2 separate regions of the Homo sapiens genome follow, and region 2 is linked to region 1. A link means that fine-mapping ties the variant in region 1 to the expression of a gene that starts in the linked region. Tissue or cell type: whole blood. Region 1 holds a variant in brackets; the other region holds the start of a gene. All regions are shown on one strand. Distances are between the middles of the regions.

What was found. PIP is the estimated chance that this variant, and not a neighbour inherited with it, causes the effect.
Region 2: PRKCB starts here. The variant in region 1 is fine-mapped to the expression of PRKCB in whole blood (TOPMed, PIP 0.92).

The regions. Positions count from the first base shown.
Region 1 is chr16:23,876,072-23,888,357 of GRCh38, reverse strand. The region is part of intron 2 of PRKCB (protein kinase C beta); the gene reads right to left. Among named protein-coding and RNA genes, the nearest start is that of PRKCB, 46 kb to the right of the region's middle. RefSeq lists an enhancer at 6,437-6,566. The variant A/T (reference allele first, on the strand shown) is at 6,792.
Region 2 is chr16:23,829,037-23,841,322 of GRCh38, reverse strand. PRKCB (protein kinase C beta) reads right to left here and starts at 5,340. Exons shown (of 17, transcript NM_002738.7): 1 at 4,975-5,340; 2 at 3,917-3,948. The coding sequence starts at 5,147. RefSeq lists enhancers at 4,235-4,374, 4,638-5,183, 5,184-5,731 and silencers at 4,685-4,764, 5,095-5,174, 5,205-5,844.

The DNA.
Region 1 (12,286 bases):
ATGGAGCCAATAGGCCCACTCAGAGAGCTTTCACGGAGCTTCCTTTAGCTGAGCCAAGCTGTGCCTTCCGCTGTTTGGTCCAAGTGTCTCAACTCAACAACCTCAAAAGTCACTTGGTATCAGCATCTGTCCTAAGAGGCAGCCTGAAACTAGAGAGAGCATTGATTTATTGGTGAGAACACAGCAGCCCACCAGGGAGAAAGGGATTGCCTGAAGTCCTCCTCTAGGTAGTCCTTGCAAGAACCAAGCTGGGAAAACAAAGAAGGGGACTTGATGCGCTAAAGGAGGAGGGAGAAATGAGAGTTCAGCAAGTCAGATTCTTGCAATTAACTGTCAGATGCAGGTGTGCTCAAGAAAAAACTAGACCTGGGAAGATCATGGGGACCCTGCTGGAGAGAAAAAGGCCAGGACCATACAGCTGCCAGCCTTTGGGCCCAGCACCCCCAGCTGGAGAATCCTTCAAGCATTCTGCCTGCTGGCCACTCAGATAGCTTATGCAGTGCCTTGGTGAGATTACGGAGAAAAAAGGACGCTCTTACACTGTTGGTGAAATTGTAAATTAGTTCAGCCCCTCTGGGAAGCAGTTTAGAGACTTCTCAAAGAACTAAAAATAGAATTGCCATTCAATCCAGCATTCCCATTACTGGGTATATACCCAAAGGAAAACACATCATTCCACCAAAAAGACACCTTCACTCTCATGTTTATTGCATCACTGTCCATAACAGCAAAAACATGGAATCCACCTAGGTGCCCATCAACAATGGATTGGATAAAGAAAATGTGGTGCATATACACTATGGAATACTACACAGCCATAAAAAAAATGAAATCATGTCCTTTGCAGCAACATGGATGCAGCTGAAGGCCATTATCCTAAGTGAATTATCACAGAAAAACAGAAAACCAAATACCACATGTTCTCACCTATAGTGGAAGCTAAACAAGGGGTATACACAGACACAAATATGGAAACAACAGACACTGGGAACTCGGAAAGGAGGGAGAGAAGGGGGTAACGGTTTAAAAACTACCTACTGGGTACTATGCTCACTATTTGGGTAACAAGTTCATTGCCTAAACCTCAGCATCACGCAATATACCCATGTGACAAACTTGCACACATACTCCATGAATCTAAAATAAAAAACAAAATATGTTTCAAAGAATGGGGCATTTTATTTCTATCCTACAAGCATATCTGTCTACAATATTTGCTTTCAGTGACAGAAAGCAAGAAAGCAAGAAAGAAAGCAAGAAAGCAAGAAGGAAAGAAAGAGAGAGAAAGAAAGAAGGAAAGAAAGAAAAGAAAACTCATGCAATGCCCTGGGATTTACAGATTCGTTCCAGAGGCAGCTTTGGAAAAGAAATGGAGTGGAAAGACGCCCATGGCCCCAGTGACCCCCCAAGAAAAGAGAACTTCCTTTCCTTAAGTCCAAGCTGACAGGTAGAGAACTAAGTCAGGCTGAAATTAGGAAAGTGGGAAGGAGGGACATGCACCAAGGAAAGAGAGGGTCTGTGGCTGCTACAGGCAGAGATGAAGGGGACAGATAGAGCATGAGGCATAAAAGGAGATAAATGAAAATGATGATAGGCCCATACTGAGCCCCTGCTGAAGCCAAGAAATCTGTTCAACTCATAACACGGCTGGGCACGGTGGCTCACGCCTGTAATCCCAGCACTTCGGGAGGCCAAGGCAGGCCGATCACTTGAGGTCAGGAGTTCGAGACCAGCCTGGCCAACATAGTGAAACCTCGTCTCTACTAAAAATACAAAAATTAGTCAGGCGTGGTGGTGCGTGCCTGTAATCCCAGCTACTCAGGAGGCTGAGGCAGAAGAATCGGTTGAACCCAGGAGGCGGAGGTTGCAGTGAGCCAAGATCATGCCATTGCACTCCAGCCTGGGCGACAGAGTGAGACTTCATCAAAAAAAAAAAAAAAAAAAAAAAAAACACCTAACACACCATAGTCCAACCCTCGCAGTGACTCTAAGAGGTAAAGATGACGTTGAATGTTTTGCCCAAAGTCCCACAGACAGGGATTTGAGAAGAACTGAGTCTCCTAGAGTAAAAGAATCAAGGAGAACCAGGCAAGAGAAGCCTCTCTCAAGAAAAGCCTTGATCCATCTGCAAGTCAAAGGAAACTTTCTTAGCACAGCCAGACTAATGCCAACCAACAGCAAAGATGATGGTTAAGGATACTTCTTGCTGTGATGCTTAGATTTGGATCTCAGCTCTGTGACCTTCAGCAAATCTACTGACCTCTTAGGACCTCAGTTTCTACAGCTGTAATACAACACACTTGTCTCAAAGAGTTGGTTTGAGGATTCAAAGAGAAAATAAATGTAATTTATTAGCACATTTCCAGCACATGGCAATCAATCAATGAAAGTTTGTTGTTGTTAATGTTGTTAGTATCACAATCCTCAAACCTCCTGCCGCCCAATATCGAGTCAAAAAGAAATACACTAAGGCCAAGGCCACCTTACTACAAGATCAACCTGGTGATGGCTCACAGGATTTTTAAGAGATCTAGAAAGACATCCAAAAAATATTTCCCCGCCAGCTTCCTCGTGTCTGAAATATATATTTTCCAGCACACAGTGGCTTTCATTTCCCATTTAAAAATAAATCCAGTGCAAATACAGATTCACACTAGGGGAAGGAGCTGGGTAGCTTGGAAATCAGAGTTGAGAGTGAATCAGAAGAGAATGCCAGAAAAGGGGGCAAAGAGGGGAAACCAGCTGTGGATAGGCCAGGCACAGTGGCTCATGCCTGTAATCCCAGCACTTTGGGAGGCCAAGGCAGGTAGATCACTAGGTCAGGAGTTTGAGACCAGCCTGGCCAAGATGGTGAAACCCCATCTCTACTAAAAATACAAAAATTAGCTGGGCGTGGTGGCGGGCGCCTATAACCTCAGCTACTCGGGAGGCTGAGGCAGGAGAATGGCTTGAACTAGGGAGGCGGAGACTGCAGTGAGCCGAGATCATGCCACTGCACTCCAGCCTGGGTGACAGAGCAAGACTCCGTCTCAAAAAAGAAAAGAAAAAGAAAAAAAGAGCTGTGGATAGTGGTAAAAAGCCACAGGATCTCCCATCTGCTTAAGAAACAGAATTGATTCAGTTAGTTAAAAAGCTTAATGATTAGTGAATTTCACTCCTAAAGAAATAATAAGAGTAAAGGGTAGCAGGAGAAGGTTAAATCATAGAGTTAGTGTCTGGCATATAGCAGGCTCTAATAAACAACATGTATCATTATTACTTATTATTATCGTTATTGTTAATTCCTTATAATCTTCACAATAACTACTTAAAAGTAGGCATTACTATTATCTTGAGTTTGCTGGCAAGGAAACTAAAATCCAGAGAAATTAAATAACTTGCCCAAGATCATCCATCTTGAGAACCTGGGAGTGCCCTGCACCTATTATATCCATTCAATCATCCATATTTGCTGAACAACTAAATGATCGCATGAACCAAAGGGCTACTAGAATGCCACAAAAGAAAAGGAGATATGGGCTAGGCATTGTGGCTCACACCTGTCATCCTAGCACTTTGGGAGGCTGAGGTGGGAGGACTGCTTGAGTCCAGGAGTTTGAGACCAGTCTGGGCAACACAGTGAGACCTTGCAGCTACAAAAAATAAAAATAAAAAAATTAGCCAGGCATGGTGGTGTGTTCCTGTAGTCCCAGCTACTTAGGAGGCTGAGGTGGGAGGATTGTTTTAGGCCAAGAGATTGAAGCTGCAGTGAGCTACGGTCACACCACTGCATTCCAGTCTAGGCGACAGAGTGAAACCCTGACTCAAAAAGAAAAAGAAAAGGAGATGGTTCAGTTCCCAGGGTGCCCTGGATGTGGTGTTCAAACAGGAAGCCCATAAGGGAAGGCAAAGAGAATGTTCACAATTTTTAATGAAGTGATATTTGCAAAGAGAGGCAGAAAACGAGAGCTAAGGGAAGGTAACTTGGGGTTGATCTGCTTTGGAAAGGAAAATATAAATATATGACAAATGTTAGTTCCTATGTCCCCATGTATATGATGTGGGGAAATCTCCAGGACTTTTGCTTACATTGAAAATGTCTTCATCATTGGGGGTGGATGCAGTGCTTTGAGCACAACACGGGTGCCAGAGTCAAATTAGGGTTCAAGTCCTAATTCTATAAGCTTGCATAAGAACTTATACTCTCTGAGACTCTCTTTCCTCATCTATAACTGTGCTACCAATATGGTAACCACTAGCCATATGTGGCTACTGAGTACTTGAAGTGTGGTTGAATTGAGATGTGCTGTACGTGTAAAATACATATCAAATGTTGAAGACTTGCTATGCGGGGAAGTAAAATATCTCATTAATAATTTTATATTGATTACATGTTGATATGGGAATATTTGGAATATGCTGAGTTAAAGAAAACATTCTCACAGTTCATTTCACCTGTTTCCTTTGACCATTTTAATGTGATTGCTAAGAACATTTTAAATTACATACACAGCTCAGGTTTATGGCTCATGTTATATTTCTACTGGACAACACAGATCTACAAAATGTGGTTATGGGATTGCTACGAAGTTCAAAGACGTCATATGTAAAGTGTACCAGGTGCCCAGCTGTGCATTTGCTTCCCTCTTCCAATTCATATCCCATTTACCAGTAAGTCCTTTTACCTCCCAAATCTGCCTGTGTCTCTCCCTCTGCACTGCTGCCCGTGCAGACAAAGACACCATCTCTCACCTAGAAATCTGCAATTGACTCCTGACTCATCCTCCCACTTCTGCTCCAGTCCCCAACAATCCATTCTCTACTTGGCAGCCAATGGAAGGTGTGTTAAATACAAATCTGATCCTTTGCATCTCGCCTACCTAAAACTCTCCAGTGGCTTCCCACTGCACTTAGCACAGAGGCTCATCCTGTGGGGCCCCTTATGATCTGGCCCCACACCCACCACGCCCCAGCAACAAGGATCACGCCTAGCCACTTTCCTCCTCAAGACCTTTCCATTGCTCATCCCAGGGCCCAGAATGGTATTTTCCCAAATTCTGTGTGGCTAGCTCCTCCCCACCTTGTAGTTCTCAGGTCACCTGTCACCCAGTTAGGAAGGCCTTTCTGATCTAAAGTAGCCACTCACCACATCACTCTGTTGTCAAATCCTGATTCAGTATCATGACATTTATCGCCAGTGGATCTCATCCTGTTTTTTTCAATTTGCTTACCTGTGTATTGTCTGGCTTCTTGCTGAATATCAGCTCCATGGAGGGTGGGGACCTATGTAAGCCACGCTATGCCCCCAGCCTTGTTCAGTGACTGGAACAAAGCTGGTCCTCAATAAATGCCAGTTTAATGAATAGATGTTTCCACTGGAGCTGTGGTGCAGTTAGAAGCCAAATCCCCAGAAAAATCTTCCCGAGACAGTTTCTACCATCAGCAATTCCACTTCAGGATCTATATCCAAAAGAATTGGAAGTGGAGTCTCAGCCAGGTGCAGTAGTTCACACCTGTAATCTCAGCACTTTGGGAGGCTGAGGTAGGAGGATTGCTTGGGCCAAGGAGTTTGAGACAAGCCTGGCCAACATAGGGAGACCCCATCTCTACAAAAAAAAAAAAAAAAAAGATATTTGTATACCCATGTTCACAACAGCATTATTCACAATAGCCAAGAGGTGAAAGCAACTCAAATGTCCATTGACCGATTAATATATAAGCAAAATGTTGCCTATTCATACAATGGAATATTAATCAACCTTAAAGAGGAAGAAAATTCTGACATATGCTACAACATGAATGAACTCTGAGGGCATTACACTAAGTGAAATAAACCAGTCATCCCAGGAGCAATGGCTCACGCCTTCACTTTGGGAGGCTCATCCCTTCACCTTGAGAGGCTGAGGTGGGAGGATCACTTGAGGCCAGGAGTTTGAGACCAGCCTGGGCAACATAGCAAGAACCTTGTCTCTATTAAAAATCAAGAAAAAAAATTAACTGGGCATGGTAGTGTGCACCTGTAATCCCAGCTACTCAGGAGGCTGAGATGGGAGGATCTCTTGAGGCCAGGAGTTTGAGACAACCCTGGGCAACATAGCAAGACCTTGTCTCTATTAAAAATCAAGAAAAAAATTAACCGGGCATGGTAGTGTGTGCCTGAAGTCCCAGTTACTCAGGAGGCTGAGATGGGAGGATCCCTTGAGCACAGGAGGTCAAGGCTGCCATGAGCTGTGATTGCCCCACTGCACTCCAGCCTGGCCTGCGAGAAACAGGGAGACCCTGTCAAAAAAAAAAAAAAAGGAAAGAAAGAAAGGAAAGGAAGAAGGAAGGAAGGAAGGAAGGAAGGAAGGAAGGAAGAAAGAAAGAAAGAAAGAAAGAAAGAAAGAAAGAAAGAAAGAAAGAAAGAAAGAAAGGAAAAGAAAAAAAGGAAGAAACCAGCCATGAAAAGACAAATACTGCAAGAGTCCACTTACATGAGGCATCTAAAATAGCCAAACTCATAGAAACAGGAAGCAGAATGGTGGTTACCAGAGGCTCGGTGGGGAGGAAGAAATGGGAAGTTATTGCCAGTGGGTATAGAGTTTCAGTTTTACGAGATGAAAAGTCCTAACTGTTGCACAACAATGTAAATGTACTTAAAATGATACTGTACACTTAAAAAAATAGTTAAGATGGTAAATTTTATGTTATGTGTTTTTTACCATGATTTTAAAATTTTGTAATTATTTTTTAAAAATCAAGTTTTCACTTATCCCAAGGAATAGAATGGAAAACTGTGGCTAAATAGTCTAAAAGGAATAAAATATTTTTTT[A/T]AAAAACGGGAATGGGCCAGGGTGCAGTGGCTCACGCCTGTAATCCCAGCACTTTGGGAGGCCAAGGTGAGTGGATCACTTGAGGCTAGGAGTTCAAGACCAGCCTGGGCAACATGATGAAACCCCGTCTCTCCTAAAAATACAAAATTAGCTGGGTGTGGTGGTGAGTGCCTGTAATCCCAACTACTTGGGAGGCTGAGGCGGGAGAATTGCTTGAACCTGGGAGGCAAATGTAGCAGTGAACCAAGACCGCGCCACCGCACTTCAGCCTGGGCAACAGAGCGAGACTCTGTCTCAAAAAAAAAAAAAAAAACTGGGAAAAGAGAGAAAAGGAGTCAACACAGGGCCCTGTCAATGCTCTGCCCATTCTTTGTCTTTCATCTTGGGAAGATGGACACAGAGACTCATGGGCCTGGGCCCCCAGGAGCATCACAGAGTGAAGAGGAGAGGCAAACATTCCCTTTAACCTCACTGCTGAAAACTTCTAGAAGTCTGCTCTCAGGACATAATTAGGAATGCCAGCAAAAGGTGTTTCATCAGAGCACTGCTTGTAACAGTGAGAAATGGAAAATACCCCCATGACCATCCGGAGGGCACCTGTTAAAGATCGTCAAGCCAAGCAGTGGAGACTACAGAACCATACAAAAAAAAAGATCGTAAAATGTGAATTGAAAAGCAGATAGTCTCTTATGTCATCTTGACCCCATTTGTGTGTGTTTGAGGAGACAGAGACAGAGAGACATGGGTAGATAGCAAGGTATTAACATTTCTGCTTGATAAGATTATTTTCTTTCTCTGCATCTTGTTGTAATGTTCTATAATGAAGATGTATTGCTTCTGAAATAAGAAAAAAAAATGTTTTAGCGAAGAAAATATGGCAGGAAAAAATATTCAGAAGGAAACCCTAGGGGATCCCAGAGAAAATTCTAGTACCCTACTTCATTTTCTAAGAGTAAAATTATAGCACAGAAAGAACCCCCAGTAACAAATAGAAAATACAAAGCTTGAGTTATATAATTCAGAAAGGCCTGCAGAGGCTGTCAGACACCCACAGAGACCCAAACAGACCTTTTGGAGCTCAAACCAGGGCAGAGAAAATACACAAAAACTAATAGAACCCATCCCGGGATTAAAAATTAAACGTGCAGAATCACAGAGACAAAGGCATATGTGAGAAGGAGGGGGAGAAGGAGGCAGGAAGCAATGTTCACTCCTCTTTCAGGTGCTAGTGTGGGCCTTGTGTGTGTGGTGGGGGGATTCTCAAAGCTCATTTTCCCCACTGTTCTAGGGAGCCCCTATAATTAAGCTAATACTAGGAGGAAAGAGCCCTTCTATTTAGCTGTCATCTGTGTGAGCACAAGAGGTGAGTCAGGCATCTCCTGCAGCAGAATGGAAAAGACCCAGGAGCCTGCCAGCTGACCTAGCTTCTACCATGCTGCCTGGCTTAGGGGTGGGGATTCGATTCCCCCAGAGTACTACTGAGTCTAAGGACAAATAATATTAATACACTTTCAGAGCATGTCTTGTGTACCAGGAACTTTCCTAAACACTATAAACATACTCACTCGATTTTCACAACAATCCTATGAGATCGGTGTTTTTATTAATCCCATTTTGCAGACAAGAAAACTGAGGCACAGAGAGGTTAAGACTTGCCCAAGGTCACAGAGTTTAAAAAACAGCAGAGCTAGGATTCGAACTCAGGAAGCTATGGCCCAAGAGCCTATGCTCTGAACTACTATGCTGCTGTCTTAGAAAGCTAAAGGACCAGGGCACCGGGCTCAGTGGCTCACGCCTATAATCCCAACACTTTGAAAGGTCGAGGCGGGCGGATCACTTGAGGTCAGGAGCTCGAGACCAGCCTAGCCAACATGGTGAAACCCCGTCTCTACTAAAAATACAAAACTTAGCCAGGCATGGTGGTGCATGCCTGTAATCCCAGCTACTCGGGAGGCCTAGGCTGGAGAATCACTTGAACTGGGGAGGCGGAGGTTGCAGTGAGCTGAGATCATGCTTCTGCACTCCTGGCAACAGTGGGGCTCCGTCTCAAAAAAAAAAAAAAAAAAAAAAAAAAAAAAAAAAAAGGATAGCTAAAGGACCAACAACAAAGGTTTATTCCCAGATTACTATGACATCTGTTTGCAGGAGATTCATGTCAAGGAGAAGGTGCCTGGAAAACCTCAAGGTTGAGTATTGCTGAACTTCATCCTAGGCTATGAAAACAGCCCAGACTTACTAAAGAAAACCACTTTCCCACTCCCATATCTCCTACTGCTTCAGTGCCCAGCTCTCAGCATTCTCTACTTCCTGTGTGCCCACAAAACATGAAAACCAGCTCTCAGCAGGAGCTACACTGCACTCAACCACTACACTGCCTCTTTTTTTTTTTGAGATGGAGTCTCATTCTGTCGCCCAGGCTGGAGTGCAGTGACACGCTCTCAGCTCACTGCAACCTCCGCGTCCCAAGTTCAAGTGATTCTCCTGCCTCAACCTCCTGAGTAGCTGGGATTACAGGCGCGTGCCACCACGCCCCACTGATTTTTTTGTATTTTTAGTAGAGACGGGGTTTCACCATGTTGGCCAGCCTGGTCTTGAACTCCTAACCTCAAGTAATCCACCCACCCCAGCCTCCCAAAGTGCTAGGATTACAGCATGAACCACCACCACACCCAGCCAACACTACATTGCCTCTTAAGGACGCAGGCTGTGCACCCAGAATGACAAAGCCTCCTCTACACTCCCTGGCTGCAAGACCTGCAGAGAGCTGTTTACCTCCATTCCCCCATCTGTTAACTAGAGCTAATAACAGGGGTTATAGTCAATCCTCATTATTTGCAAATTCACCTCTTGCTAAAATTTATTTATAACCGCCAAATCCATACTCAAGGTTCTTTCATGATCACTCACGGACATGTACGGAGTGGCAAAATATTTGAGTCAGCCAACATGTGTTCCCAGCTGAGGATGAACAAAACCATGTTCTACCTTCAGACTTCAGCTCTCATGCTGTAAACAAGCATTCTCTCTGTGGTATATTAGCAGCATGCTTTTTCCCATTTTTCTGCTTTTTGAGGGTGACGTTGCTGTAAAATGGTCCCATAGGGTAATGGTGAAGTGCTATCTGGTGTTCCTAAGTGCAAGGAGTCCGAGATGTGTCATGCGTGTGTTATATAAGCTTTGATCAGGCACGAGTTGGAGTGCTGTTGGCAGTGAGTTAGATGTTAATGAGTCAACAATATATATTAAGGTGTCTTTAAACAGAAACACACACAGAATAAGCTTACGGGTTGATCAGTGGATGAAAATGCTGTGACCAAAGGCTCACAGGAACCCAACTTTGTATTTCACCTAGGAACAATGGTTCAGTGTTTATTAATTCAGTGTTTGCAGTGACTTTACAGAACATAACTACTGTGAATGACAAGAAGTGACAGGCCGGGTGCGGTGGCTCACGCCTGTAATTACAGCACTTTGGGAGGCCCAGGTGGGTGGATCACCTGAGGTCAGGAGTTCAAGACCGGCCTGGCCAACGTGGTGAAACCCCATCTCTACTAAAAATGCAAAAATTAGCCAGGAGTGGTGGTGCATGCCTGTAGTCCCAACTACTCAGGAGGCTGAGGCATGAGAATCACCTGACCCTGGGAGGCGGAGGTTGCGGTGAGCCGAGATCATGCCACTGCACTCCAGTGTGGATGACGGAGTGAGACTCTGTTTTGAAAAAAAGGAAAAAAAAAAAAAGAAGTGACTGCACCTCAGAGTACTGTCAGTCTTAAATAAGCTGATACCACTAAGGCACTTAGGATACTGCTTTGACACATACTAAGTGTGATGTAGCCATTCTCCATTACCATTTACACAGATTTTTAGCTTAAAGACTGAAATGAAATCAGTGAGAACATGGGGACTCACACAGAACAACTAACTTTCCTGAGTTGAGTGGCCCAGACAAATGCACAGAAAGAGAGTTTTGACAGTGCGGCATGCCATTGGTGATGAGCTCAGAGTGAATAAGTGGCTTCAGGTTGAGGCCGACTTTTGGGAACACCCATGGGCTTTACCTGCTCAGAATCTACTCTTGGGGAGTCTTATATGGGATTGTAGAGGGGTCAACAAGTCAGAGATGGTCGTGTGACTCAAGGCAGGACAATCAGAAGCTCCTTCCCCAGACTTAGCACCTTTTTAAGAAAAGATTCTCTCTATTCTCTCTAAAATTTAGCATTTGTTTTTTAAGAGACAGGGTCTCCCTCTGCTGCCCAGGCTGGGGTGCAGCAGTGCCATCATAGCTCACTGCAGTCTTGAGCTCCTGGGCTTAAGTGATCCTTCTGCCTCAGCCTCCACATAGCTGGGACTACAGGCACTGTGCCTGGCTACTGTTTTTTTTTAAGGACAGGGTCTCACTATGTTACCCAGGTGGGAAATTTGCATCTTTTACAGAGTTATTCACCCCATCTCTGGTGTCCTGAAGGAAACAGTCATTAGTCCCTGCTTCCTAGATCCCTAGAATTCATTTGGTTTCAGGACTTTCTAAAGCCTGGTTCTTCATCTTTTCCTTCACATCTCTGTCCATCCCTCCCCCCCCATATCCTTCTAACAAATTCTTTTTTGCTTACATTAATCAGAGTTCATTTATGTTACTTGCAACCAAAGGATTCTAACTAAAGGATTTTCAAAGGATATGTTTCCTTCATCCACCCTTCCCTGTCACTTAGGTCTCAGAAAAAAAGAAAATTCCAGTGTTAACCACTTTCTCCAGCTGAACATTGTTTTGAGTAGTGGTATTTTGAAGGGACAGAGCAGAACAAATACATCAGTGAAGCACTCAGATGTCCTTAAATTAGTTCAACTCTTCTGGCCCAGATGAATTGCATTCCAGGGCTCCAAGAGATCTCACCAGTGAGATCACCAAACCACACTGCCTAGGATCCCAGAAGAATCCTGGAGAAAGAGAAACGCAGAGAGGTACGCAAATGTCATTTTTTTTTTTCAAAAAGAAAAAGAAACCGTGGCTTCTGCAGACAAAAGAACCAGCATAAGGAGATGGAGACATATCGGACTAACCCCATTTCCTTTTTAGTGTGTGTTTTGTTTTGTCCTTGGACAGTTGCTAATCTGGTGGACGGGGGAAGTGTGATGTGGAATATATCCCTGGAGTTTAACAAAGCATTCCTCAATGTTGCCTGTGATAGTCTTTTGGGAATGACGGAAAATATGCTGTCTTCTCAGAGTTTGGTGGATTAGTGACAAGTTAAACTTCCACAGCCACATGGTACTACTTAATACAATTTGTCTTTGTGGCACTTACAAGTAAAATTACGTATATAATTGTTCCATATCTGGCTTCCCTGGTAGGCTGTGGGATCTGTGAGTGAGTGGTTGGAATCTGTCTTGGTCACCATTATATCCCACACCTCGCATTGTGCAGAGCACATAGACAGGGGTCCAAAAAATGACTGCATGCGTGTGTAAATGAGTTGATCAATCAATGAATATATGTC
Region 2 (12,286 bases), 47 kb after region 1:
GGATCACCTGAGGTCAGGAGTTCAAGACCAGCCTGGCCAAAATGATGAAACCCCATCTCTACTAAAAATACAAAAATTAGCCAGGCGTGGTGGCAGGCCCCCGTAATCCCAGCAACCTGGGAGGCTGAGGCAGAAGAATCGCTTGAGCCCCAGGAGATGGAGGTTACCGTGAGTCGAAATGGTGCCACTGCACTGCAGCCTGGGCAACAGAGTGAGACTCTGTCTCAATAAATAAATAAATAAATAAAAGGCAAAGAAAAAAATGCCATAGAGAGAAATCTGCCTTGCTTGTCAAAGGAGTTCCACTTCTACTCTAGAATTTAGGCAATTTTACAATAGGGATCTTCAGCCCCAGTTCCCTGTCATCAAACACATTCTTAAATTACCTCCCAGAGAGTGGTTTTATAAGAAATAGACAGAGTGGAAACAAAAAGGGAGAAATTATGAGGCAGTCAACCTAGAGTTTCGTCCTATCATCATACGAAAGCAAGAAAATCTATTCTTAAGCTCCCCTGAGCACACAGAAATCCATAATTTCCCAAGGTTTATGAGTTTTCCATCCTTCCTCTCCCAACCCATAGCAGTGTCCCCAATTTCCATGACAATGTAATAGAGCCTGAAGGTTACTCTCAATGGTTTCTTTGCCTTGCGATCATCCTACACACCTCCTACCAGAGTGGCAGAGACAACATCCTCTCTCTGCTTGTATTTTTGAAATGGAAACATCCTCTAAATAGTGGCTGCCTGAAATAAACACTACATTTCCCACATGCTCCCTCACAGCAAGGTGTGGGTATGTGATTAAACCCTAGCTAAGAGGATGTAGGTAGAAGGATCTTGAGCAACTTAAACAAGTGACACCGAGCATGTGCTATATGCCCTTCTTTACCCCTTTCTTCCTTCCTGCTAGCTGAAAGAAGGGTGTGAGGACTCCAGCGTCTAGCATCCTTTTTGGACCATGAGATAATTGTCACTCCCCAGGGATAGTGGAGCAGAAAACTCAAAGGAACCTGAGGCCCTGGGCTCTGGATTGCTGACTTAAGTGAGATCATAAAACCTTATGTGTTTTGTATAAACTGTTGATTCCATCGTAAGTGGATTTACTTTCAGAGGAAATATCTGATACCAAGAACAATCAGATACTAAGGAACTCCTCAGTGGTTCCAGAATTAGTCCCAGGCAATGCTGAGTACCAGGGATAAATTTCCCTCTTTCCTATATGTTCCCATTCTAAACATCTCAATTTCAGGGACTGCCAATCTGCCCCTCCCCTCACTCCTCCCTACTGCTGCCCAAATGGAATATGCTGTCAAAGCAGCTACACAGAGTGACCAGAAGTTCATGGCTGAGTTTTGACTCTTACCTGGCAGGCAGTTCCATAGCAAAGCAACCCTGCAGAGCCAGTCTTCTCTCGTGCCAGCTGCCCCACCATTGGGGTAGTCTGGGGACAATCATAAGAGCAGATATTTTCTGAGCATACTCTGTGTCAAGCTCTGGTCCAAGAATCTTGGATATTGCAATGAGTTGGAGCTGCTCAGCCACACTATGGTACTGTTACTGACTCCGTTTTATAGACAAGGAGGCTGAAATACAGAGAGGCTAAGTAATATGCCTGGGAAGTCTCAAAGCTAGGATTCAGACCGACAGGGACTTGCCTGGTAGCCTGTGCAAATGCCCACTTCTCTACGCTGCCTCTTGGTGGGGAGGCAGGGAAGAGAAAAAGAAAGGCAATTTAAAAAATAGACACTCCAGAGGGGCATAGTGGCTCACACCTATAATCCCAACACTTGGGGGCTGAGGTGGGAGGGTTGCTTGAAGCCAGGAGTTCAAGACCAGTCTTGCAACATCACAAGACCCCTTCTCTACAAAAGTTGTTTTAAAATTAGCCAGGCATGGTGGTGCGTACTTGTAGTCCCAATTAATCAGGAGGCTGATGCAGGAGGATCACTTGAGCCCATGAGTTTGAGGCTGCAGTGAGCTCTGATCATACCACTGTACTCCAGCCGGGGCAAAAGAGTGAGACCCTGTCAAAAAAAAAAAAAAGACACTCCTATCTCTAGAGCGCCCATATTTCATTACAAACTTTAATTCTGCCTTTTTCTCTTAACATCAGAAAATTCCTATTATCTTCCAGACTTTGAGTTAAAGGATCTCCTATTTCAAATGTGTCATGCCTTGCACATTCCAAAGTGACTTTCCCATCCATCAATAACAGCAGAGCAGGTGGCATAGAAGATCCGTGGTAAAAATGTTTAAAAATCGCCCCCGATCTCAGCAAGAGACAAAGACTGAAACTGATTCATGGAAGTGAAAGGCAACCTCAAAGAAGAAATTACACATTCCGGTGCCAAGACACCATTGGCATTTTGTTTGAGGGGTCAAAGTTCTAGAAAACAATCCAAATTTGTTTGCACCAGGGCCTAAGTTGTTGCCACTTAAAGAGACTTGAGGAGTCCTCTGGTGTGGTGCAGAGGATCCAAATCTTGGTAAGACAGGCTGGGTAGGTTGGCAGGGCTCACTGAGCCCACCGGGACCCCGATCTCAGAAGAGTATGCAAGAGTCTCAGAGGAGCACAGTGCCATGCTGCCAGCAAGCAAACATTCTGCACCACTGACGATGCCACCTACACTCACTAGGGATCACTTTACTTTTCCCTGGAGGGTGGAGGTGCAGCCACAAAACTGTCAGTCAGTGCTAAATCACGTCAGACTCTTCCACACTCAAATACTTTCTTTTGATTTAAACCCAGCTCACCAGGGTGGTGGTCACTTTGCCCCTAAAGATACAATACCCCAGAAATGTGCCGTTTCTTACCAAACTCAATCTTACCAAGCCCAAGAGTGAAAAATTAAAATTTAAATTAAAAAGAAAACATAACACACAAACTTTCCAGATGAGAGGTTGCAAACTTAAATGCCCACAGGGGCCAGAAATGGGTGAAGTGTTCCCCACTGGGATCAACTGAGACAAAATGGTAAGGCTGTTCCCCATCTACGACGACGGCTCTCAGCTCCAAACGATTGTTTTCAAGCGAAAGTGAGACCATTTCTCAGCAAAGTTAAAGTTGGAAATTAGGATGTGTATGTGAAATCTCCCAGTTCTAAAACGTTCACATCAAATTCACAAGTAAGACACCCTAAGGGCTACACAGAGCTGCGGGTAACTTTTGGTCCTGGAGAGCCAATTTGCAATCTGTCTTTTAGACATGAGCCCCAAAGACGGGGGAGGGGGACACTTTACACGTGATCAACTCACCACCAGCAGGTTTGATACCCCTGGTTAGAGTCCAGGATCTCAAGCCAGATGCAAGAACTCAGGTAACCAGTGCCCTGGAGACCTTTCTGTTTCAACCCAGAAGATAGGGTGATTTAAACCAGGATCTGAGAAACACTCCCTCTGGAAATACTTCTTTCAGAGAGAGAGGAGGCCCAGGCGACAAACACAGTCGCCTTTCTAGGGGATGCACCATCTGCAGAGGAGCGGCAGCCACCTGCAGAGACCTCTGCAAGGCAGGGAGAGGCAGAACCTCCCTGGGTGAGATAAGGAAGGGACATGGGCAGAGAAAGGGGAACTAAGGAGGACAGGTTCTCCCAGAAACGTCCCGGGAAAACACTTTCTCCCCCAGCGGAACTGACCATGCCAGGATTGCTTCAGGAGACCGCTTTGACTCTTCCAGAGCCGGGAAGGCAGGAAGGGTAGGTGAACTTCCTTGGCATGTAAGACTCCCAAGCGCCATCGGCCCCAGTCACACACACACCCCTTGAAAGGACCCTGTTGTGGTGAAGAATTCCTAGCCTGGGAGGTCACTCCGACCAACGTGATTCTTTCACTCTCTGCCTAACTCAGTAACTTCTTCTATAAAGTATTTTTCACCCTCTCTTCCCACAAATAGCATCCCCAAAGCCCCAGAGCCTACCTTGGCACTGGAATCCCTGCTTCCCGAAGCCCCTGCAAAAGCAGAAGGAGGTGTATGTCAGGCAGCCCGGGGGGCCCAGCCTCCAGCTAGTTACCCACAGAGTCACCCGCCTTCCTCCCTGCCTCTGTACCCCAGGTGCAAACTCCCAGCCACAGGCGGGTGCCCAAGAGTCTTCCGCCTTTGTGGGGGTAGGTGGGAGCTCGGCTGTAACCCCCATCTGCCTTCACTCCTGCAGAAGAGAGGAGGCTGCGACCACCAGGTGGCGGGATAGTGGGGAGCGTTTCCGTCGGGGTAGGGGCTGAAGGCAGGCGACAGATGTACCCATAGATGCCCCGAGCACCCTCGGGAAAAGAGAAGAGATAAAGACGCATTCAGAGGGAGGGCGAGAGTGACCCCGCGGCGGTGGTGTCCTCTGGGAGGGGGACTGGGAAGGAGGAAAGGATGCCCCACTACTGGAGGGACTGGGGAAGAAAGGGGCCCGCAGTGATGTGACCGAGGAGTGGAAAGGGGAACCCAGGCCCTCGGGGAGGGGCAATGGGAGATAACACAGGGCGCTGCCCGGAGGCACAGAGGAGTGAGAAAGGATGTCCCATGCCCGCAGGGAGATAGAGAAGGACACCCAGGGCGCCGCCCCCCCCGGAAACAAGGGGTGGGGGGCGAGGGCTCCTCGCGCCCGGAAGCAGGCGGAGAGATAGGGAACCCCGGGTCGGAGAGCACCCGAGGCGCTGCCCTCCAGGGCAGGCACAGACCCCGCGCGCTCCTAGTCAGGTGGAGCAAAGGCTCCCGCGACGCCGCCCCTGGGCGCTCTAGAGGCGCCTGAGAGCAGGAGAGGGCAGGAGGCGCCCCGCGGCGGCCCGTCTGGGACCAGGGTGGGGACAGGGCAACGGCAGGACTGTCCATCCGGGAGTCCCGGGCAGCAGGGTCCGGAGCCGGGAGTCCGGAGACGCGGGGTCCCAGGGTGCGGAGGGCGCGGAGGGCGCAGAGGGCGCGGAGAGGGGGTCCCTGGCGCGGCGCTGCCCTCGGGGGCCCGGGAAGGTGCCCTGCGCGCGCGCGCTCACCAGATGAAGTCGGTGCAGTGGCTGCAGAAGGTGGGCTGCTTGAAGAAGCGGGCGGTGAATTTGTGGTTCTTGACCTCATGCACGTTCTTCTGCCGGAGGGCGCCTTTGCGGGCGAAGCGCACGGTGCTCTCCTCGCCCTCGCTCGGCGGCGGCCCCGCAGCCGGGTCAGCCATCTTGCGCGCGGGGAGCCGGAGCCCGAGAGGTGCCGGCCCCGGGGCCGCGGGACCGCGGGCTGCGGGCCGGGGAGGCGCGGGAGGCGGCGGCCGCTGCTGCACCCGGGGCCGCGGGCGCTTCCCCTGCGCCGGCTCTGGCGGCCGCGGCGCGCGGAGCCGGGGCTGTCACTCGCCCAGCTGCTGCCGCTCGTCCAGCTGCGCTTGGCACCGCTGGCCCCAGCTGCGGGGGAGGGAGGCGGAGCCCCGGGCCAGCCCCGCCCTCCTCATTTGCATCGCGCCCAGGCCCCGCCCAGCGCTGCCAGCTGCTTTACATATCGGCGCCCGGGCTACCGCGGGCCTCGCGGCTAAGCGTGCACAGCCGCAGCTCTGCAGCGCCGGGACCGCAGCCCGGGGTCGTCGGACCCGAGCCTCGCCCCCCACCCCACCCCGTCCTCGGCCCCCGGGGCTGCGTTCAGGAGATGTGCCCAGGGGAGGAGCGAGAGTGGAAAGACCTACGGGGCGAAGGGGAGCGGGTGGAAGGGGTGGGGCGCAGCGAATTCCACCCCGGCCTCTGCGGAGACTGGTACCCATCCACCCCCATCCATCCCATTGGTCATTCTGCACGCGTCTCCTGGAGGGATGGGCTCCCGCTGTCACTCATTCGGAAAGGCTTGTGGCCGCACACACTTACACACACATACACACACACGTTCTGCAGAGGTAGGGGAGGAGCGATCTTTATTTTATATGTCTCTAACTCCACCACAGAGAAGATTCTTGGCTTTGCTTGCCTCCTGCACGTTTGGAAGAGAACTCCCTACCTTCTGTCCATCCCCTCTGCAAAACGACTCCGTTTCCCCAACTGTAACATAGGGCTAATAGTGTGGGGAGGAAGGATTTCAGTAGATCAATATTTTTCCAAATTTCATTCATTTCTGACTCGTCTTCACAAATTCTGGTCGTATTTGTGCACCCTCTGGGGGAAAAAAAGCCTATCTCTTTTGGTCTGAGTTTGAACAGCAAGAGGTATCTACATTATTAAAATATCTCCAGGTGCCGTCATCTGTCCTAAGCATCTTCGACTGAAGTCATCTTTTATTTGTTAAGAGAGGAAATTAATAAATGCTAGAGGGGTGTTAAAGACATTACTATCCAACCAGGACTCTCTCCTTGATGTGATCTGAAGGTAACTGAAAGGGTAATAATTGTCTACAATGTGTAATTCAATGTTATTTAGCGCCCTGTTCATGCACAAGGCCTAAAGATACCCACTGCCACCATGTCCCCCACTCTGGGAACGCAGAGCTTCATTAGGCTGTGAGCTCCTTCACCAGACCTAGGCTCTGTGAGAGCAGGGGGGCTGTTCACCACCATGTCGCCCAGCACCAAGCTCAGTGCCTGACACCTCCCAAGACCCCAGTAAATATTGGTTGATTGAGTGAGGGCATGGATGAACAAGTGAATGAATGAAGACTTAAAGGTCGGCACTTCTTACCCCCACTCACACCCAGTAGGTGTTTAATAATAAATATCAAGTGATTGCTGGGCATCAGGTACTTGTGCTGTCTTATTTAGCCCCCGCAACAACCCTATGTAGATCTGGTAACTTTCATTATGGATAAGGATGGGGAGGTTCAGAGTGATTAAGATACACCCACAGTCATACCGTTGCTGAATGGTGATTGGGCTGGCCTGACTACAAAGCATCCTGGTGACAAAGGGGTGAACCTGAGTAGTGGTGGATGAAGGGGGGCAGGCTGGAGTTGCACGAGCTCAGGTCCCACTATGACAATTTTGCCTGGAAGCTGCTGAGTGGTAAGTCATTATTAGGTAGCATGTCGAGAGCAAGGGCTGCAATAATAGAATGTCCCTCTCCTACATAGTAATTCAAAGGTAAGGAGGAAAAAATAGCATTCACTTTTAAGGTTGACATGTTTGGGAAACTGGATGTGCCTGTCTATTATTAGTCCTTGAAGAGGCCCCACCACCTCCCAGGGAGGCTTGGGAAAACATCCCAGGAGACATTGCTGCTGAAGTAGATTTCCTTTGAACTGATGAGCTGGAAGCTCACAGCCCACATCCTGCCTTTTGAATGAAGTGCCCTGGATGACTTTGGTCTGTAACAACAAACAGTACCTCATGGCGCCGGGGCCTGGGGATGCAAGGGCTGTGGATGGAAAAGAGCCACTTGGTTCCTGAAGGCGTTGCACCAAGTGAGGATGAGAAATGTGGTTCCCATTGGACCCAGATTCCTGTAGGTCAGGGTCTCAAACTGGTGGCTCCAGATGCTCTATTTTTTTTAAGCTAGCCCAGTGGGTTGTTGTTGTTGTTGTTGTTTTTTAAGTTCACGGGTCATAGAATTTTACTTAAATATCCAGATTCTGACTTATCTAGGAAAAAAGATAGAGCTAAATGGAGCCTACATTCCTCCCTCACTCATACATTTGTTCTTTCAATCAACAAATTGCTTATTAAGCACCTACTGTGTGCTGTTCCAGATACTGTTAAACAAACCAGACAAAGGTCCCTGCCCTAGTGGAGCTTATAGTCTAATGGGGAAGGGGGAGTAATAACCTAACCAACTAACGAATCCATACCTGGTGGTGTATAATAGAATGTTTGTAAATAAAAATAAAGCATTATTATAAAGACCACAGGGAAATCCTTTATAATATGGGGACATCTGAGTAAGGCCTGAATAAAGTGAGAGGGTGAGCCAGGGGACTATCGAGAGTTTCCAGACAGAGAAAACAGAAAATGCAAAGAGCCTAGGGGAGTATCAAGCTTGGTATGTTGGAGAAATAGCGAGAAGGCCTCAGTGGTTGGATGAACAGAGAGGAGAGAGGACTTATGAGATGAGGTCAGGGAGGTAGCAGGGCCCCAAAGGGCTTTGCAAATGTGATAAGGAGTTTGGATTTCACTCCAGTGAATGGAAGCCATTGGAGGGTTGGAAGCTGAGGAGTGGCCTGATACAACTTATGGGGTTTTCATTTTAAAAGCTTACCCTAGCTACTATGTGGAAATTAGAGGAGAAAGGGTGGAGGCAGGAAGAGCAGTGAAGAGGTCAACTGAGCAGATCAGGCAAGAGATTAGGGCAACATGGCATAGTGCCAACAGGAGCTGCAGGGCAGCAGCTCCCCGTAGATTGGGCATGGGTCCTCCTTGCCACCAGAGCCCCCCAGGCCCACTCTGCTCATGAAGGAGTGAATGCTGGTCACTTGAAAGATTTCAGAGGCAGTGAGGGGGCAGGTTGCTGTGGCTGAGAATGGAGTCCAAGGTCCCTTTGCTCCAGACCTGTGGCTGCCATAAAAAATTATAACAGAACAGGGTGGCTAGAAATAACAAAAATTTATTCTCTCATCATTCTGGAGGCCAGAAACCATAAGTCACAGTGTCAGCAGGGCCACATTCCCTCTGGAGGTTTCAGAGGGGAACGCTTCCTTGCCTTTTGTGGCTTCTGGAGGCTGTCAGCATTCCCTGGCTTCCCTGGCTTGTGGTCACATCGCTCCCATCCTCCTCTGTCTTTATATCACCCTCTCCTCTGTGTGCCTATCTTCACCCCTTCTGTTTCTCTAATATCCCCTGTATATCTCTTTTTTCTTTTCTTTTTTTTTTTTTTCCAAGATGGAGTTTTGCTCTTGTTGCCCAGGCTGGAGTGAAATGGCATGGTCTCGGCTCACTGCAGTCTCTGCCTCCCGGGTTCAAGTGATTTTCCTGCCTCAGCCTCCCAAGTAGCTGGGATTACAGGCACCCGCCACCATGCCCGGCTAATCTTTGTACTTTTAGTAGAGACAGGGTTTCACCATGTTGGCCAGGCTGGTCTCAAACTCCTGACCTCAGGTGATCTGCCTGCCTTCAGCCTCCCAAAGTGCTAGGATTACAGGCGTGAGCCACTGCACTGGCCCTATACCTTGTATATCTTTTATATGAACACTGGTCCTTGGATTTAGGGCTTCACTGGATAATCCGAGATGATCTCTTCATCTCAAAATCCTTAATATAGTTATGCCTGCAAAGACCCCTTCGCCAAATAAAATGACATTCACAAGTTCCAGGAATTATAACATGGATGTACCTTCTTGGGGGCTACCATTTAAATGACTACAGTGCATAACCCTGGGCAAGTCACTTACTTCCTCCTGTGTCTCATTTTCCTCTTCTCTAAGGTAGGACAAGGATACAGTAGTTTGCCTCTCAACCCCTTTATTCTTTTGTTTTTTGTTTTGTTTTGTTTTGGTTTTGGTTTTTTTTGAGACAGAGTCTTGCTCTGTCACCCAGGCTGGAGTGGAGTGATGCGACCTCGGCTCACTGCAACTTCCGCCTCCCAGGTTCAACCCATTCTCCTGCCTCGGCCTCCCAAGTAGCTGGGATTACAGGCGTGCACCACCGTGCACAGCTAATTTTTGTATTTTTAGTAGAGACAGGGTTTCACCATGTTGGCCAGGCTGGTCTGAAATTTCTGACCTCAGGTGATCCACCCGCCTCAGCCTCCCAAAGTGCTGGGATTACAGGCATGAGCCACCGCGCTCGGCCTCAATCCCTTTGTTCTAAGGCTGCACTCTTCAACACAGTTGTCACAGTACCCACATGTGGCTGCTGAGCATTTGAAATGTGGCAACTCTCAAGATCACTTAGAACTGCTACTAATTGTAACTAAAAACCTATAGTAAGAAACAAGAAAAGGCTAGGTGTGGTGGAGGCTTATGCCTCCACTTTGGGAAGCCAAGGTGGGAAGACTACTTGAGTCTAGGAGTTTGAGACCAGTTGAGGCAATATAGTGAGACCCCATCTCCACAAAAACTTTTTTTTAATTAGCCAGACAGGTAGTCCACACCTGTAGTCCCAGCTACTCAGGAGGCTGAGGCAGGAGGATCATTTGAACCTGAGAGTTGGGGGTTGCAGTGAGCCATGATTGTGCCACCACACTCCAGTTTGGGTGACAGAGTGAGACCTTATCTCAAAAAAGAAAGACAGGAAGAGAGACAGGGGGAGAAAGAAGGAAAGAGATAGAGGGGAAGGAAGGCAGGAAGGCAGGGAGAGAGGAAGGGAGAGAGGGGAGTATGGCCCCTTCAAAGGGAAAAAATAAACCAACAGAAACTGTCCCAGAGAATGATCAGAAGGTGAGCCTACTAGACAATGGCTTTAAAGCAACTATATTGAAGATGCTCAAAGAACTAAAGGAAGACATGGAGAAAGTTAAAAAAATGCATAAACATAACAGAAATGTCAATAAAAAAATAGAAAACCCAAAAAGAAACCAAAAAGAAATTCTAGAGGTGAAAATACAATAAATGAAATTTAAAAATCACTAAATGGTTTCAAAGGCAGATTTAAGCAAGCAGAAAAAAGAATGCACAAATTTAAATATAGGACAATTGAAATTATTGAGTCTGAAGAACGAAAAGAAAAATGATTGAAAAAAGTGAACAAAGCCTGAAACACTTGTGGGACACAATCAAGCAAACCAACAGCGTACCATGGGAATTTCAGAAAAAGAGAAAGAGAAAGGAGAATTATTTGAGAGCTTATTTGAAGAAATAATGGCCAGAAACTCCCCAAGTTTGATAAAAGACATGAATATAAACATCCAAGAAGCTCAGCAAACTTCAAGTAGGAATAACTCAAAAAGACCCACACCAAGACATTATAATCAGACTGTCTGAAGCCAAAGACAAAAAGAGAATCTTTAAAGTGTAAGAGAGAAGTGACTCATCATATACAAGGGATCCTCAATAAGATTATCTGCAGATTCTTATCAGAACTTCAGCAGTTAGAAGGTAGTGGGCTGATGCATTCAAAATGCTAAAAGAAAAAATAATCAACCCAAAATTCTCTAACTGTCAAAACCGTCCTTCAAAAGTGAGAGAAATTAAGACATCCCCACATAAGCAAAAGCTGAGTTTGTCACCACTAGAGCTGCCATGCAAGAAATACTAAACTAAAGGAAGTCCAGCAGGTTGAAATCAAAGTGCACTGGACAGTGTCTTGAAGCAATGTAAAGAAATAAATATTTCAGTAAAAGTAAATACATGGGCAATTATAAAAGCTAATATCATCATAAAATCCACTTACTGTTTTCTCCGTGATTTAAGAGACTAATGCATTATTTAAAATTACTACTTTATGTTTTTGGGTGCACAATGTATGAAGATGTAATTTTATGACATTAATAACTGAAAGGGATGGGGACAGAGGTATTAGAAGCAGAGATTTTGTATGTTATTAAAGTTAAGTTGGTATGAATTCAAATTAGAATATTCTGACTTTAGGATTTTAATGTAATCCCCATGGTAACAACATAGAAAATAATTATAGAATATACACACAAGGGAATGAGAAGGGAATTAAAACATTTCACTGCAAAAAAAAAAAAAAAAATCAGCTAACCACAAAATAAGATAGCAATGCAGGAAAAGAAGAACAAGAAAAGCTATAAGTTATATAAAAAACAAATATCAAAATGAGAAAAGTAAGTCTCTCATTCTCAGTAATTACTTTAAATGTAAATGGATTAAACTCTCAAATCAAAAGACAGAGATTGGCAGAATAGATTTTCAAAAATGCGACCTAACTATATGCTGTCTACAACAAGAGAACTCACCTTAGGCCAGGCATGGTTGCTCACACCTGTAATCTCAGCACTTTGGGAGGCCAGGGCAGGCAGATCACCTGAGATCAGGAGTTCAAGACCAGGCTGGCTAACGTAGTGAAACCTCATTCTACTAAAAACACAAAAAAAAATAGCCAGGCGTGGTGGTGGGCACCTATAATCCCAGCTACTACAGAGGCTGAGGCAGGAGAATCACTTGACCCTGGTAGGTGGACTTTGCAATGAGCCGAGATCAAGCCACTGCACTTCAGCCTGGGTGACACAGCAAGACTCCATCTCAAAAATAAATAAAGAAATAAATAATAAAGAGATCCTACTTTAGATCCAAAGACACAAATAGGTTGAAATTAAAAAATGTGAAAGCAGGGTCTGAAAGAAATATTTGTACCCATGTTGACAGCAGCATTAGTCACAGTAGCTAAAACATGAAAAGATAAGCAAAATGTAGCATATACATACAATGAAATATTATTCAGCCTCAAAAAGAAGAAAATTCTGACACATGCTACAACATGTATGAACCTTGAGAACATGATGCTAAGTGAAAGAA